Regions from separate parts of the Homo sapiens genome. Here region 2 is linked to region 1. The links come from fine-mapping of genetic effects on gene expression. Tissue or cell type: whole blood. Region 1 holds a variant in brackets; the other region holds the start of a gene. All regions are shown on one strand. Distances are from middle to middle.

The links. PIP is the estimated chance that this variant, and not a neighbour inherited with it, causes the effect.
Region 2: LINC03052 starts here. The variant in region 1 is fine-mapped to the expression of LINC03052 in whole blood (INTERVAL, PIP above 0.99).

What each region holds. Positions count from the first base shown.
Region 1 is chr2:96,078,290-96,086,394 of GRCh38, reverse strand. No RefSeq gene overlaps it. Among named protein-coding and RNA genes, the nearest start is that of ADRA2B, 34 kb to the left of the region's middle. The variant T/C (reference allele first, on the strand shown) is at 4,089.
Region 2 is chr2:95,522,796-95,530,900 of GRCh38, reverse strand. LINC03052 (long intergenic non-protein coding RNA 3052) reads left to right here and starts at 4,147. Exons shown (of 1, transcript NR_182300.1): 1 at 4,147-6,028. It also overlaps the pseudogene ANKRD33BP1. RefSeq lists an enhancer at 3,608-3,737 and a silencer at 3,878-4,167.

The sequences.
Region 1 (8,105 bases):
CGGATGGTCTGTCTGCTCCACTCTGAGCCACCCTGGGTTCCTGCAGCATCATCACCCTCTGTGGCCAGGATTTGGTTACAGGCCTATGTGTCCACCAGACTGTGGCTCCTCAAGGGCCCCATCCCAGCATAGAGCCCAGTGCATGGGGCAGGCTGAGCTGGGAAATGAAGAGTGAATGAGTCAGTGAATAAATGAATGAACAGACTGACCACAGGATCTGAGCTCGCACTGGGTTCTGCGCATCCTGGGGCAGCGGCTCTGGAGCTCAGGCCTGTGGAGCCCTGCAGCCTGTCCCAGGCCTGATATCGAACCTTCCCCCAGGTGACTTCTGCCTGTGCCCCCCACCTACTTGCAGGGACATAAAGCCTGATGGGTGGTATCCAGGTACTCCCCTGCAGCTGTGGAAGGCCTGGATCCCCAGAGGTGGAGCTGGGTGAGGAGGAAGTGGGGAGGGCCCAGCTACCCAGCAGCCCAGCACCTGGACGGCCCGTCCCTCCATCCCTTGGCCCTGGCCCTTGGGCTTCCCTGTGAACTCTCCTTGGTCCCTCCTGCCTCTCTGCCTTTCTGATGCCTCGCTCCTCATCTCAAGCAGACCTGGCCTCTTTGATCCAGGCAGGCAAACAGAGCCCTTCCCTTTCCTCTGCCCCCGTCCATCCTCACAGAGAGAAGCGCGGTCTGCGTCATCAGCCACCCCCGCTGCCCACAGTGACCTCCAATCTCCAAACCCCAGGGCCTCTCAGCAGCCCCATGGAGATGCTGCCCTTTCTGCTTCCAGGAACCCCTCTTCACTGGGCATCCCTGCCTGTTTCTTTGGCCTCCTGACCACATCTCCATCTCTCTCACCTTCTGCCCCTTGCATGACGGGTTCCCAGGGTCTCTCTTTGGTTGCTTTCCCACATCCACTTGATTCTTCCCATGGGCAGTCAGACCCTCTTCTGGGGCCTCTGCCATCACCATCCCCACCCCTGCCCCTCAGTCCCAGCCCTCCCTCTGCAGCCCAGGCCTGCATTGCTGGCGGTCAGCAATGCTTCCTGTCCTGAGAAAGTGCCTGGCTCCACTCTCTTCCTGGCTGCTCAGGGGTGAAACTTGGCCTCATACCAAAAGGAGAGTCTGGGTTGCCCAGCCTAGCTGGGCGCCTGGCACTGGCGGTCAGCAATGCTTCCTGTCCTGAGAAAGTGCCTGGCTCCACTCTCTTCCTGGCTGCTCAGGGGTGAAACTTGGCCTCATACCAAAAGGAGAGTCTGGGTTGCCCAGCCTAGCTGGGCGCCTGGCACTGTCCCCCAGGGGTCTTCCTGCCTTTGCAGCCTCAGCACCTGCACCTCCTCTTCCCACATCTAGACACTCCAAAAACAGACTCAGGGCCACTCCCTGGTGGCTTGAGCTTCCCCTGTGCTGGGCCTGTGCACACACAATTGCCTGTAACTAGAAGCTTCTCCCCTTTCTCCTCCATTCCACACGTCCATCGTCTAAACCCCACCTATACCCCAAGGCCCACCTCAGTCCCTCGTTCTTCATGAAGCCCCTGCTGAGTGCACCTTTAGGCTCGCCCTCCTCCTTGCCTCCTCCAGCCCAGCAGCCCCTGGCTGGTTGCAGGCAGCGGCAAACCAGAGCGGGGTCCTCAGGGCAGGCTGCTGTGGTCGCTGCTCCACCTCTGGGCCTCCCTTAGGGTTTGCCGGATTAGCCAAAGCAGTGCAGGTGGCCCCGGCTGCCAGGGAGGGAGGCCCTGGGCCTGGAGGAGGTGCCCACTCTCCACGACCGCCTGGAGGGGCCTGCTGGCCAGAGGCTGCCCCTACCACTTCTCAGGCTCACACCGTGGTCTGTTCATTTGTTCATTTGTTTGTTCAGACATGGTAGACGCCCCCTGGCATATTCAGGCTGGTGGAAAGGGCGCCACTGTGACAGTGCAAAGCATGAGGCTTGCTGAGAGGATCTATCAAACCCAGCCAGAGGGCATCCAGGGTGGTCTACAAAACCCACAGCACAGGACAAAGGCAGACACACACACACGGTGAGAACTCTCACAAGCAAGAAGCAAGGGCGGGATGATGGGGTGGAACCCAGGGGGTGTCCTGCACTTTCAGGAGAGATGGCTGCTTGAGGGTGGCTACAGGGTACCCGGTCAGGGACGTGATGTGTGATTCATGCGGTCAAGCCAGAGCTGGACTCAGAAACAGCGCAGACAACCCGGGGGCAGAGGGCATTTCTCCCTTACCCCGTGGCTGGGACTTGGTGAGCAATATCCCAACAGCGCCTGCACCTGCTGCAGCATCCCTGGGTATCAGGGCAGCTTCCTCTCCTGGAATCTAGATATGATGGCCATGAGCCCCAAATCCTATGGCTCCTGGGAGCGAGGCCCTTCTGGAGGCCTTTGTGACTGCTGGGTTAGAACTCGTGCTCATCCATTATCCCCGGTTTTGGCTACTAGACAGTTTTGAGGATGCACGTGTATTCAAGGACATCCATGGGAAGAGAGATGAAGAGAAAATGAACATAAATTATGTTAGTGGCCCCTCATGGGGCCTGGAGGTCAGTGTGGGTGGTGACAGGCATGCGCCTAACTCAGGCACTAAGGAAGGAAGAGGGAGGAAGTGGGGAATGGCTCTGAGGCTAGAGAGGGAGGGTGAGCCTCTCTCCCTAGGGTCTTGCAGGGATTGGGGGTGGCAGGAGCCCAGATGGGGCAGCAGTGTCCAGGGGTCAGGATTTGAATGTGCATGGCCTCTGACTATGCACTCCTGGGGTAGGGCAGGGCCTGGGAGGGCTTGGCAGACGTGGCCTTCTGCATGCCTCTCTGCTGAGGTTGGGGCACGAGGCTAGGCCAGCCAGAATTTTTGGGCCACCTCTGGCTGAGCACAGAAGGCAGCTGTCCCCAGTGGAGGGGTGGGGGCCTTGGCCCTTGGAAGCAGGTCATGGGATGTGGATGCTTAGATATGTGCGGACGTGAGCAGCTCTGCAGTCCTTGGCCCCTGGCTGGCCAGCCCCGGCGCCAGGCCTGACTTCCCCTCCTCCTGACACTGCCAGGCTGGAGGCCAGTGGCTGACCGAGCAGGCTCTGCCTTGGGCTGAGCTGGAGTAGGGAGGGTCTGCAGGACTAAGGAAAAGTCCACTGCTAAAGCTATGGCAGCCTCCATCTCATCAGCCTCCTAATTAAAGTGACACTGCACAGTGCCTGCCAAATTCATTGGATGTTGACCCCAGGATGTGGTGGCCCTCCCAGGACTAGGGGAAGAGGCAGGTGGGCTTCCTGGCCACCTAAGGCAGCCTGAGAGCTGCCCATGAGTGGGGTGGGAGGGAGGGCAGCTGTGTAAGCTACACTGGGCTCGGAGAGACAGGAGATGTGAGTCCCTGTCCCTGCCTGTTCCTTATAAGTGGTGTGGTCTTGGGCAAGCAGCTTCCCTCCTCTCTAAGGAAGTTATGAGGTCAGTTACACTCTTGGGAGTGGAGAAGCTTCCTTTGTAAACTGTGAAGTGCTGCCAGAATGGGAGGTGGAGAGGAGAGCTGGCCTTCCAATCGATGACCTGATGACCTCAGCTGGCCAAGCAAAGAGGTCCTGGGGGACAGGCAGGTGTCTTGGCCCTCTCTCCATTTTGTCCCCTTGCAGACTAGCCGTGGGCTGGGGTAAGTATGAGTCCAAGACTGGACCCCGGCCTGGCCAGGACACAGGCTTGGAGCCTTGCATTTTGCAGGCTGGAAGGACATCCTTGAGAGAAGAGCTATTACCAAGGCGGGATGGATCTGATAGCTTTGTGAAGTGATCAGCAAAGAGTGAGCACCCAGGCTGTCCAAACCTCAGGCCTTGGAAGAAGTGTGGCACTCGCAGGACTGCCTGCTCATGGCAAGGCACCAAGGTACGACCTTGTGTGGGTCACGGGAGCCGCACAAGCCAATACTCTTACCTTTTGCCTGGAAAGGCCTGGAGATGCAGGCCCACCTGGGCCACCTGAGTTACGCACAAGTGTGTTAGTTCAGCACCTCCTCCCCTGCAGATAGACCTCTTGCCCAGGATCACAGGGATGGTCAGTAATAGCCCGAGCCAGGACTCCAGGGCTTAGGGCCTGGGCAGCTGCCGGAGGTGGGGGGTTGTCTACCTTG[T/C]GGCCCCTCCCAGAAAACATGCTTGTAATTTGGAACTCTGGTTGTGCAGCCGCCCCGTTGGCAGCTTGAGAGGAGCACGTGTTGGTGAGAAGGAACATGGCATCCTCTGCCTTGCTCTGGTCTGGCCTCTCATCCTGCGATGCAGGGGCTCCATCCACAACTCTCTGTGAAGAAGAAATACAGACTTTCTCAGACAAACGAAAATTGAGGAAATTTATTGTCAGTACACGTGCCTTGTAAGAAATATTGAAAGTTCTTCAAAGAAAAAGAAAAACATGTAAGTCAGAAACTTGGATCTATATAAAGAAAGAGAGCACTGAAGAAGGAATGAGGGAGGATAAAATAGAAAGTGTTTTTTTTTTATTCTGAATTGATCTAACAGGTAACAGTTTGTTCAAAATAATAATAGCAACAATATATTCAATTATTTAATCGTATATGTATATTATACACATAGAAACATATACTTAAGTATGCTTATGTATGAGTAAAATAAATGAGAGCAGACATAAGAGGCAGGAGGCAGGAATTGGGATTATTTTGTTATTATAAGATACTTGGTACAACCCATGAAGTAGTATTTGGTATTTGAAGATGGATTTGCATTAGTTGTAGACGTATACTGCAAATCTAGGGAAAATACTGAAACAAGTGAAAAAAATAAGAAGAAAAGTATTTTTTTTAAAAAGGAAGTTGTCTTAGTGCGCTTGGGCTGCTATAACAAAATACCTCAGACTGCATAATTTATAAATAATACAAATTTATTTTTCATAGTTCTGGAGGCTGGGAAGTCTAAGATCAAGGGAAGAGCAGATTTGGTGTCTGATAAGGGCTCACTCTCTGCTTCCAAGGTGGTACCTTCCTGCTGTGTCCTTGCGTGGTGGAAAAGATGAATAGCCCCCTCTCACCTATTTTGTTAAAGCACTAATCCATTATTGAGGGCTCCACCCTCATGACTTAATCACCTCCTAAGGGCCTCATTTCTTATCATATTGGTGGTTACATTTCAACATATGAATTTTGGGGGAACATATTCAGACCATAGCAGAAATATGCTGACTATTTATTTTTTGGTCATATAAAATGCTCAATTAAAAACCACAAAAGGCAGAAAAAGAGTGGGAGGAAAAATAGAGGAACAAATAACAAGGCAACAAATAGAAAAACAGTAACGGGTATGGTAGATATTAATCTATGTCAATAATAATTTTGAATGCCAATGGTGTAAATATACTAAGACAGAGATTCTGCAAAGCAAAAGAAACTATCAACAGGGTAAACAGACAACCCATAGAATGAAAGAAAATGTTTACAGCCTATGCATCTAACAAAAATCTAATGTCTTGAATCTATATGGAACTTAAACCCACAAGCAAAAAACAAACAACCCCATTAAAAAATGGGCAAAGAACATGAACAGACACTTCTCACTTGATCTTAGCCAAAAGGCCGAGAAGCGATGAACAGACACTTCTCAAAAGACATCTGCACTGGCAACAAGCATAGAAAAAATACTCAATATCGATAATCAAATCAAAACCACAATGAGATACCATCTCATACCACTCAGAATGGCTATTATTAAAAAGTCAAAAAATAACAGATGCTGGAGAGGTTGTGGAGGAAAGAGAATGCTTATACACTGCTGGTCAGAACATAAATTAGTTCAGCCACTGTGGAAAGTAGTCTGGAGATTTATCAAAGAACTTAAAACAGAACTACCATTCAACCCAGCAATTCCATTCCTGGGTGTATACCCAAGGTTATGTAAACCATTCTACTGTAAAGACACATGCAGGCATATGTTCATCGCAGCACTATTCACAATAGCAAAGACATGGAATCAACCTAGATGCCCATCAATGATAGACTATATATACACTATGGAATACCACAGAGCCATATAAAAGAATGTAATCAATGTCCTTTGCAGCAACATGGATAGAGCTGGAGGCCATCATCTTAAGTGAATTAACACAGAAACAGAAAACCAAATACTGCATGTTCTCACTTATCAATGGGAGCTAAACACTGAGTATACACAGACACATAGAAGGGAACAACAGACATCCGGGGGCTACTTAAGGGTGGAGGCTGGGAGGAGGGTGAAGATTGAAAAACTACCTATTGGGTAATCTGCTTATTACCTGGGTGACAAAATGTCCTGTACACCAAACTCCCATGACATGAATTTACCCATGTAATAATAAACCTTCACATGTACCCGTTGAACCTAATATAAAAGGTGGAAAGAAAAATAAAATAAAAGAGATTATCAGAGTAGATTAAAAAAACCAGACCCAGCTATATGTAGTCTACAAGAAACCCATTCTAAATATAAAGATGCATCTAGATTAAAATTAAAGTGATGGAGAAAGATACACCATACAAATATTTAACTAAAACACCCCCCAGAATATCTGTATTAATTCAGGCAGAGCAGACTTAAAGAGCAAGGAAAGTTACCAGAGATAAAGAGGGGCATTACATAAGAAAAAGGAGTCAGTTCTCCAAGAAGACATAACAATCCTGAATGTGTGTATGCACCTAACAACAGAGCATAGAAATATGTAAGGGAAAAATTGACAGAACTGCAAGGAGAAACAGATGAATCCACTACTAAAGCTGAAGACTTCAACACTCGTTGATCAGAAATCGGCAGACGGAACAAGCAGAAAATCAGTAAGAACACAGTTGAACTCAACAACACCAGCAATCAACTGGATAAAATGGACATCTATAGACTACTTCATCCAACAACAGAAAATTACACATTCTTCTCAAGCTCACATGGAACATTCACCAAGATACCACATTTTAGGCCATGAAACACACCTTAATAAATTTAAAGAATATACATCATATACTATCTGCTGTCAGACCACAACAGAATTAAACCTCAAATCAATAAAAGGAAGATAGCTGGAAGCCATCAAAATATCTGGAGATTGAACAATACACTTCTGAGTAATATCTGGGTCAAAGAAGAAACATAGAGAAATTAAGCAATGTTTTGAACTAATGGAAATGAAAATACAACTAATAAAAATGTGTGGGATGTAGCAAAAGCAGTGATTGGGGGAAATTTATAACATTGAATGAATTAAAGTGATTATTAGATTCTATATTAGAAAAGAATATCGAAGATCAGTAATCTAAGCTTCCGCCTTAGGAAAGTAGAAAAAAGAGTAAATTAAATCCAAAGTAAGCAGAAGAAAGTAAATAATAAAAATTAGAATAGATATCAATGAATTGAAAACAGGAAATCAGTAGAGAAAATCAGCAAAATCAAAATCTGTTTATTTGAAGGTAGGTGAAACTGATAAGCCTCCAGCCAGGCTAAGAAAAAAAGAGGGAAGACACAAATTACTAATATGAAAAATGAAAGGGTGACATCACTAATGGCCTTTTATGGACACTGAAAGGATCATAAAGGACTATTATGAAAAACTTGATGCCCACAAATCTGATAACCTAGGTGAAATGGAAAAATTCCTTGAAATATACATTCTGTCAAAATTCATTCAAGAAGAAATAGACAATCTATGCTGAAGGATGGTGGTTCATGCATGTAATCCCAGCACTTTGGGAGGCTGAGGTAGGAGGATCTCTTGAGGCCAGGAGTTTGAGACCAGCCTGGGCAACATAATGAGACCCTGTCTCTACAAAACATAAAAAATTTGATGGGTGTGTTAGTGCGCACCTGTTGTCCCAGCTACTTGGGAGGCAGAGGTGGGAGGATTGCTTGAGCACAGGATGTCAAGGCTGCAGTGAGAGGTGATTGTGCTACACCAGCTTGGGTAACAGAGTGAGATCCTGTCTCAAAAAAACAAAAAAAAAAACAAACAAAAAAAAACAATCCGAACAGGTCTATCTGTGTTAAAGAAACCAAGCCAATAATTAATAACCTTTCAAAACATAAAGTACCAGGCCCAGATAGATTCACTGGTGAATTCTACCAAAAATTCAAGGAAGAAATTATATCAATATTCTACAGTCTCTTCCAGAAAATATAAT
Region 2 (8,105 bases), 560 kb after region 1:
AGCAAGCTTGAGTCTCCGGGCACATCTCAGGAAACAGTAATGCAAGGCGCACGTCAGGGCTGTGACTCACTCCTCAGAGCAGGCTTGGGTCCCCAGTGTAAGAATGAACAGACAGCCCTCCCACATCATGTAGTGTGGATGGTGGGGCTGCAGGGCATGTCGTGCTCTTGCCGGTGGGCTGCCAGAGACATGTCAGACCCACTTCTTAGTGAGGGCCCATTCATTTCCTCTCTGGGTTGCATTTCATCATAATCACTCGGTACCCACGATTCTTCCTGACAGCCTGAAACAGCAGGCTTTGCATCCTTTTCAGGCCTGGGGTCTGGTCCTACCCCAGGGGCTTCTGTTTCACCCACAACAGATTCGCCTCCATGCCAGAGACACTGCTGACAGCAGGGAGAGAAGCGAAAAGAGGGGTCCAGCACAGCCCTTCTGCATTCATATATCCTATTTTCCATCCAACATCACAAACTCCTTGTCTCCTGCTCCCAGGAGGAACCTTGGGTCTCAGGAGTGGTCAATGCTGAGATGACAAAGCCATTGCAATTCTGATCTCCATAGTCTTGAGGCCTCTAGTGTTGCCAGGAGGCTGTCAGGAGGAGCTTGAGAAGAAAGAGGCCCACGATGTTTCACAATGTTTATCCCAAGTGGAGCCAAGGGACAGCCTCTGCACACCGAGGTAATTCCAGATGAATTGCTCCACGCTGTTCCCTCCTCCTTTCTGGTGTTTAGTGCTGGCTGACTGTAGAACACTTTATTCACAGAAGCAAGTAGAAAAAAATGTCACTCTTAGTTCACATGCTCCAACGTCAGACTGGGAGTGACCGGTTCTGGAGGGAAGAACCAGGACTGGCTCACTTGTGTTCTCATCAGCCACCTCCACGCACACGGAGGTGGATTTCACTGGTGTCAATACACGCATTCACATCCATGAGAGGCCACTCAGAGGGGCAGAAGCAACTTCACACCCACCATAAAGCCACTTCTGCTGCCAGAGTCCCCAGTCTCCAATCACCAAGAAATTCTCCACCAAGGGGCAAGCTCCAGCCATCTAACTTGTAATCAGTAGCATCAACATTGTCTGAGAAATGTTTATTCTGTCCAGTTTAAGCTTACTTTACACAAACACTAAAAACTAGTAAAATAGATTTTAGCTTTTCCTCTAACTATATTTATATATAAATCCCTGAGAAGGTAGCTGTCAACTTGAAATTCACTATCTACAGCTCCCCGGAAGATCAGACTTCCCAGTCCCACCAGAGCGCCCCATGCAGCTGTCATTTTCTCTCAAGTTGCATACACTGGCCAGGTAAAGGCAGCTTCTACTCAGCAGGCAAGTGGCCCTCTCACCTTCAGATTTGCCAAAGAAATCCGGGTCCTGCCCTACACTTGCTGGCTCGGCAGGCTTTTCAAAATGCAGGTATCTCTGGAGCCATTTTGTGAACACCAGGAGCATCACTGGACAAGCCCTGTGCTGGCCCCAGGGTACTCTGTGCACCTGGGTAAGGCTGGAACACACTGGGGACAGGGACCCAACATACTCACTCCGCAAGAGCGTGGGACCTGGGGAAATCGCCAGTTGTTTGCTGTCCTGCCATTGCCGTTCTACACATCCCTGGAGACTATGAGCATGGGTTGTGGTGCCGTAGTGGCTGGGCAGTATCAGAAATGTCCATTTTTCACCTGGAAGCAGCAGACACCCAAGGCTCAGGGTAGAAGTGGGGGCTCCATACCATTCCCAGTGCCAACTTCCCATGGCAGAAACAGGAAGGAATGTCTGGCAACCCACCAAGGGTCAGACGCCACATCAGCCTGAGCAGAAGCTGCCTGACACTGGCTGTTCCAATGACAATTAGACGTTCTTGGGAAGGTGGCGCCCTTTGTGGGAGCTCAGGATGGGTGTCCTGGAAGTGCCACTTAAATGGCACTGAGGCCTCTCAAAATCCCTGTGTTAGAGCTGCAGCTCTCCATGTGGGCTGCAGTGCAGTCACCTATGGAGCTTTAGGACAGGCCCAAGGCTCAGTTCCCTGGGCCAGTGCCTCAATAACTTTCGCAGTTCGGCTTGGAGAAGCGAGCCTGGGAGACCACGTGGCACTGCCTGGCTGGGTCCTGGGCTGACAGAGGTGAGCGTGGGGCTTGTGGTGACTTGGTAATGCTGTGAATTATGTACGTGTGGCAGGAAGGTGCCACAGTGCTAAGGCCCCGCATCTTGGAAATTCCATAGGGTCCACATGAGGATGAACTAAACACCAAATGCAGTCCTCAAAGGAATAATAAAACAAATACCCACATAAGGGAATCTCTGGAACTGAGTCTGGAAGAGGGGGCTGCCTGGTCCACTCCAGGAGAATTTGCCTAAAACAAGTTTGCTTCTCATTGCATTCTCTTTGCTTCTTCTAAACATCACCTCCTCTAGAGGTTACATTACACCCCATTCCTGTAATTTACATCATTCTGGGCTCCTTACTCTTGTTGCATCCTTTTTTACATTTTAAGGATGCCTAGATTCGATTTACTTAAGAGCATATACGGCTTAATTTTATATTTCTGGTAATCATTTATTACATTTCCCCCATTTTATCAAATGACACATTTTTCTCATGTCTATTTTAATATGTTAAAGATTTTTGTATACAGTTTATCTAAAACTCCTTGCTTAAAATGAGTTTAATTCTAGCAATACAGACATGCCTATCTCTGCATTGTTTTATAATTTGACGATAAATGTTTTTCCTCAATATATGACTGTATTGGATAATACTTTTTAAAAAGATACAATAAAATCTGATCTCTCTGTCTCACTTGATCATGTGGCTGAACCAGTCAATCCCTCCATCAAATAGAAATATCCGGCATCACTTAATCTAATTAATAAAAACATCCACCCATGATGAGAAGACCAAAGCAAACAGCCCAAAAAGGAGAGAATCCCATGATTTCTGTGTAAAGTCCTACAGATATCATAAATATTTATTGCTGGAAACAGTGTTTTAAATAAAAGGTCTTCAGGTAAGTGTATAAAAACTTCCTTGGATACAAGGGACCCTATCACTTGTAAAACTTGGCAAATTGGACAACAATTAAAAATACAAAATTACACAGAAAATATCCTTTAATAAATTGATTTTTTTTTAATTGAGACGGAGTTTGGCTCTTGTTGCCTAGGCTGAAGTGCAATGGCGCCATCTTGGCTCCCTGCCACCTCTGCCTCCAGGGTTCAAGCGATTCTCCTGCCTCAGCCTCCCGAGTAGTTGGGATTACAGGCATGTGCCACCACGCCCGGCTAATTTTGTATTTTTAGTAGAGATGGGGTTTCTCCATGTTGGTCAGGCTAGTCTCAAACTCCTAACCTCAGGTGATCCGCCCGCCTCGGCCTCCCAAAGTGCTGGGATTACAGGCGTGAGCCACCGCGCCTGGCCTAATAAATTAATCTTTAAAAAAATCTTAATTGAGGTTCTCTAAAGGGAGCCTTTTAGGGAACATGCCCCCTAGGTGTACTGATTGCTAGGGTGGCTGGTGTGAAGCGAATCGATGTGGCTCCCCCAGCCCCTTTCTGGGAGCATCCTAGAGAGACAGCGTGGAAACGCGCGCTGCCCGGTGGTCCCGAGAGCTGCCATGGTGCCCAGCCCCGCGGCCTCACCCAGCCCTCAAACCCCGTGCCAAGCACCCGCGGACTCTCACGTCCTCTTCTTCCAGGGCGGCGGGCGCTTCTCCTGCACCTTGGCCTGGCGCCTCTTCTCGGCCTCCTCCGCCTCCCGTTTCTCCTCCTTGGCCACCTTGTAAGGCCACTTGGGTATCCGCAGGTGGCCGCTGCCTTTATGCTGCCCTTCCGCGCCGGCCTTTTGGGTTGGAAGGTGGGCGCGGGCACCTTGCTGAGGCGGACCTGGGCACCACCACGCTGGGCCCCAAGCTGCTCTGCTGCAGGCACTGCAGGGGCAGGAGGCTGGCCGTCCGCGGGGCGGGGGCGGCGGAGCCCCAGGACCCCGGCAGCCGGGCAGGTGGGAGGCCGGCTCTTGGGGAGGCCTTTGTGGAGCCAGCGGCCGCTAGGCCGAGCGGCTTATGCTACTCTGCGCCCTCCTCTTCGCCCGCCTCCTGCGCCTGCCTCCCCCCACCCCTCGCCGCGCCGCCGGAATTTCCTGCGCCGCCAGGATTTCCTGCACCGCCAGCCGCCTCTTCCCCCAGCACAAGGTGCTCTCGGGGCACATAGTCTGGCACGCGAGGGCCCCGGCGGGGCTGTTAGAGGCTCGTGGTCATCCTGACCATGTGGTCCAGGGCGCCCCGGTCCTCTGGGCCCCGCATGGAGCGCGGCGTCAGCGCGGACAGCTCGCAGTCCCTGAGCCTCTGCAGGCAGTTCTTGGAGCCCTCGGGCTTTTGCGGCCTCTCGGGGAGCGGCGGCAGCTCAAGCTGGTACTTTTTCCCCAACAGCTCCCGGCAGGGGCGCTCCAGGAGCCTCTGCATGAGGCGGACGTATAAGTGGCCACTCCTCTGGCGACATCCCACGGCGGGGGCCCTCGCGTGGACACCCGCCCCTGCTAGCTCAGGGCTCCGATGCGATCCGTTCGACCCTGCATGGCGGCTTTCAACCCGAACGCGTCCCTCCTTCAAGATCAAGACCCTGAACGTAGTTCAACAAGTAGTTGGTGATGATAGCGTGCCCTGACTGGGCCAGGATAGCCTCTTTAGTAAAACAGCCACGAAAGTCATGAAACAGATGCTCAGCTCCTTTCTTCATTTTCACTTTAATTCGGTGATGCCTCTGTGTCTGTCTGACGACATCTCTCCTGGGGTCTGTGATTCTGCTGATGGTCTTCAGTGCCTACTGAGAAGGGTTCCTGGACATCATCAGGTATGAAAACCTCAAAGCTCTCGGTCCTCAACGTGAGAACCCTGGGCCAGCGGCATCAGCCTCACCAGGAAACCTGTTCTTCTGCTCATTCTTGGGCCCCACCCCAGGCCTATTCAAAGAAAGACTCCAGGGGCAGGGCCTGGCAGCCTGTGTTTCCACCAGATCTGTGTTAAAGCTCAAATGAACCAGCCCACGTGATGCTGACCAGGAAGCACAAGGCTGAGAGCCAGTGTCCAAGGCAACGGTGCCCATGGGGCCAGAGGCAGCTCCTGCCTGTGCAGCTGTATTTAGGGCTGCGTTCCCCTCCCTGTCCTGCCAGTTGACGTCAGTGTGGGGTTACTCAGCTAAGGCCACCACGGTATATCCACAAAGCCGTGGTAGCAGGCGACATTAAGGCTGGTCCAGCCATTGTGGTCAGTCTCCTGCGCCTTCTCAACGCTCACCCCTCGCCGCACCAGCGTCCGCAGCAGCCCCATGCCTCCTGGACGCCCTCCTCCGGGACGCTCTCCAAGCCCTCGACGCCGTGCTCCTCCTCGTCCTGGAAAGGGTACAGAGTCGTCCCAGGCTATGCTGCAGGTGTGGGGCCCTGGAACTCTTTGTAGTCAGCGCGGTCCTCCTCGACCTGTGCGCCTAGGAGTGGGGACGGCGGTGGCGGGGTCATGCAGCGCTCCCAGCCACCCTGCGGCCGGGTCCCAGCCAGCAGCACCATGCCAGCGGCCGGAGGCGTGGGCTGGGGGCCGGGGCACCGTCCCGGAAAACCGGGCGCGCCCCAAGGTCCCTGCTTCTCGCTTCCGCGTCCCCAGAGAAGCCGTAGCTCCCGCCCCCAGCCCGGCAGAAACCTCCTTTCTTTACATTATTAAGTTTGTTTTCATTTTAATTTTCTTAGGACATTGATAAAATCACTTTCGGATTTTTGAGATTAAAAATTAAATAATTTTCATCTTTACCCTTTTTAAATTTTTCACACTTTATTTTAATGCTTTTATTCTTTTGTAAATTTTAATTATTGTAATTTATATCTTCAATTATTATGGAAGAATTTTAGAAAAGTCTTTTCACATAATAAAGACTAATTAATGAACTATTATTTATTCTCTCCTCTATCTCAAATACGGACTTTAAACTTTTAGAACACTTTTTGTTTTGAGACTCTTGTTACTTATGTGACATTTTAACTATTCACTCTTCTAGTGAATTTTTAATGTCATTCAAAGGGTACATCTTTCTACACTGAGAATTAAACAAAGTTCTCAAAAATATTCTCAGATAATTTAGAATTTCACCTTCCACTGGCATGTTAAGTATGTTCTCCTTCCCTTCTAATGCATATTTTCCTCACACGTCCTCATGTTATACTCCTTATTCACCCTCCATGCAAGAGGTGATTTTATTTATTTATTTATTTATTGAGACAGAGTCTCAGTCTGTCACCGAGGCTAGAGTGCAGTGGCATGATCTCGGTTCACTGCTATCTTTGCCTCCTTGGTTCAAGTGATTATCCTGCCTCAGCCTCCATAGTAGCTGGGATTGCAGGTGTGCACCACCATGCCCCGCTAATTTTTGTATTTTAGGTAAAGACAAAGTTTTACCATGTTGAACAGGCCAGTCTTGAACTCTTGACCTAAAGTGATCCACCTGCCTTGGCCTCCAAAAATGCTGAGATTACAAAAACAGCAACTAAACGCTGGAATGATGACTGGGAACTTGTCTAGAGTCTCCAGTGATTATCCTCCTTATAACAAGGCAGAAAGCCTTCCTCAGAATTATCTGGACTGACATCACTCATTGTCCAGACCTGTTAACAGCAACAAGTGCTGTGAGTCTCAAATGTGCTCCTTCAATAATGCAGTAGAAGGCCTGAGTTTCCACATAATAGTATCCTTGAATGCCTGGAGACTTAAGGCACAAGAATGTATTGATCCTATGAACTTTATGTTTTGTAAAATTTCAGATTATGTGAGGTGTTTGGACAAATTAAGTTTCAGGGTGATATCCACTATTGAGACAGAAAATTAGTTTAAAGAATTAAGACCTCAAAGTCCAGAATGAGAAAAAATTGTTTTTCTTAGAGCCTCCTTATAACTGTCTTATTTGTTTTATAGATGTAAGTACTAGAGGACAAGCTCTACCTGATATAGCTGGCCTAGACATATGCAGATTTATTAATTGTAGAAGAAATAATTATACCTTTCAGGTAAAATGGCTATGCAAAATAATTAGTTGCTGTTTTTGAGACAAGTTCTCACTCTGTCACCCAGGCTGGAGTGCAATAGCACAATCAGAACTCACTGCAGTCTCAAACTCCCAGCTGGTCTCAAGCAATCCTCCCAACTCAGCCTCCTGAGTAGCTGGGACAACAGGTGCACACCACCACTCAAGGCTAATTTTCTTTTTATTTTTGGTAGAGATAAGGTCTTACTATGTTGCCCAGGCTGATCTCAAACTCCTGGCCTCAAGTGATTTTTCTGCCTTGGCCTCCCAAAGCACTGGGATTATAAGTATGGCCACTGTTACCAGCCTTAGATCATTTTTTTTAATACAGATAGCTTCCCAACTAAAAATATTTTATTAGAATTCTCTGAATTCAGCAAAGCAATGTTATTACTGACCCAGTCTTCACTTATTTTCAGCTGACATGGAAGAACAAAATTACCTTTATTTTTAAATTTATTTTATTTTATATTTTCAAGGTGCAAAGTATGTTGTTTTGAGACACATATACATAATGAAATGATTACTATAATGAAGAAAATTAACAAATCTATCATATCACTTAGCTGTGCTTCTTTTTTATGATAAGAACACCAAAAATCTAGTCCCTCAGAATATTTCCCAAAAACAATACATTATCAAATATGCCTACAGGTTGTACATCAGATTCACTTATTCTACTACGCCTTTACAACTTTTGCCCTTCATTTACCTATTTCCTTCCCACCAATGTAACCACCTTTTTTAATGTATTGAACTTTTAAAAATAGATTTCAAATATGAGTGGAACCATGAAGGATTTTTCTCTGTGTGTCTGTCTTATTTCACTTAGGAAACGTGCCATTTACATGCCTCCTAAATTTAGTACAGAAATAGAGTGCTAGTCAAGAATGTGTCTCAGTGTTGTTATATTAATTTTTTCCAAGTTATCCTCTTTATCAATTTTTACTTTTTGTACTATAGAAAAGTCAAAATTATTGTATTAAAAAATCTGTAACAAGGCTATTGATAAATAACTTCTTTTAGGGATAGAAAACTCAGGAAGTTC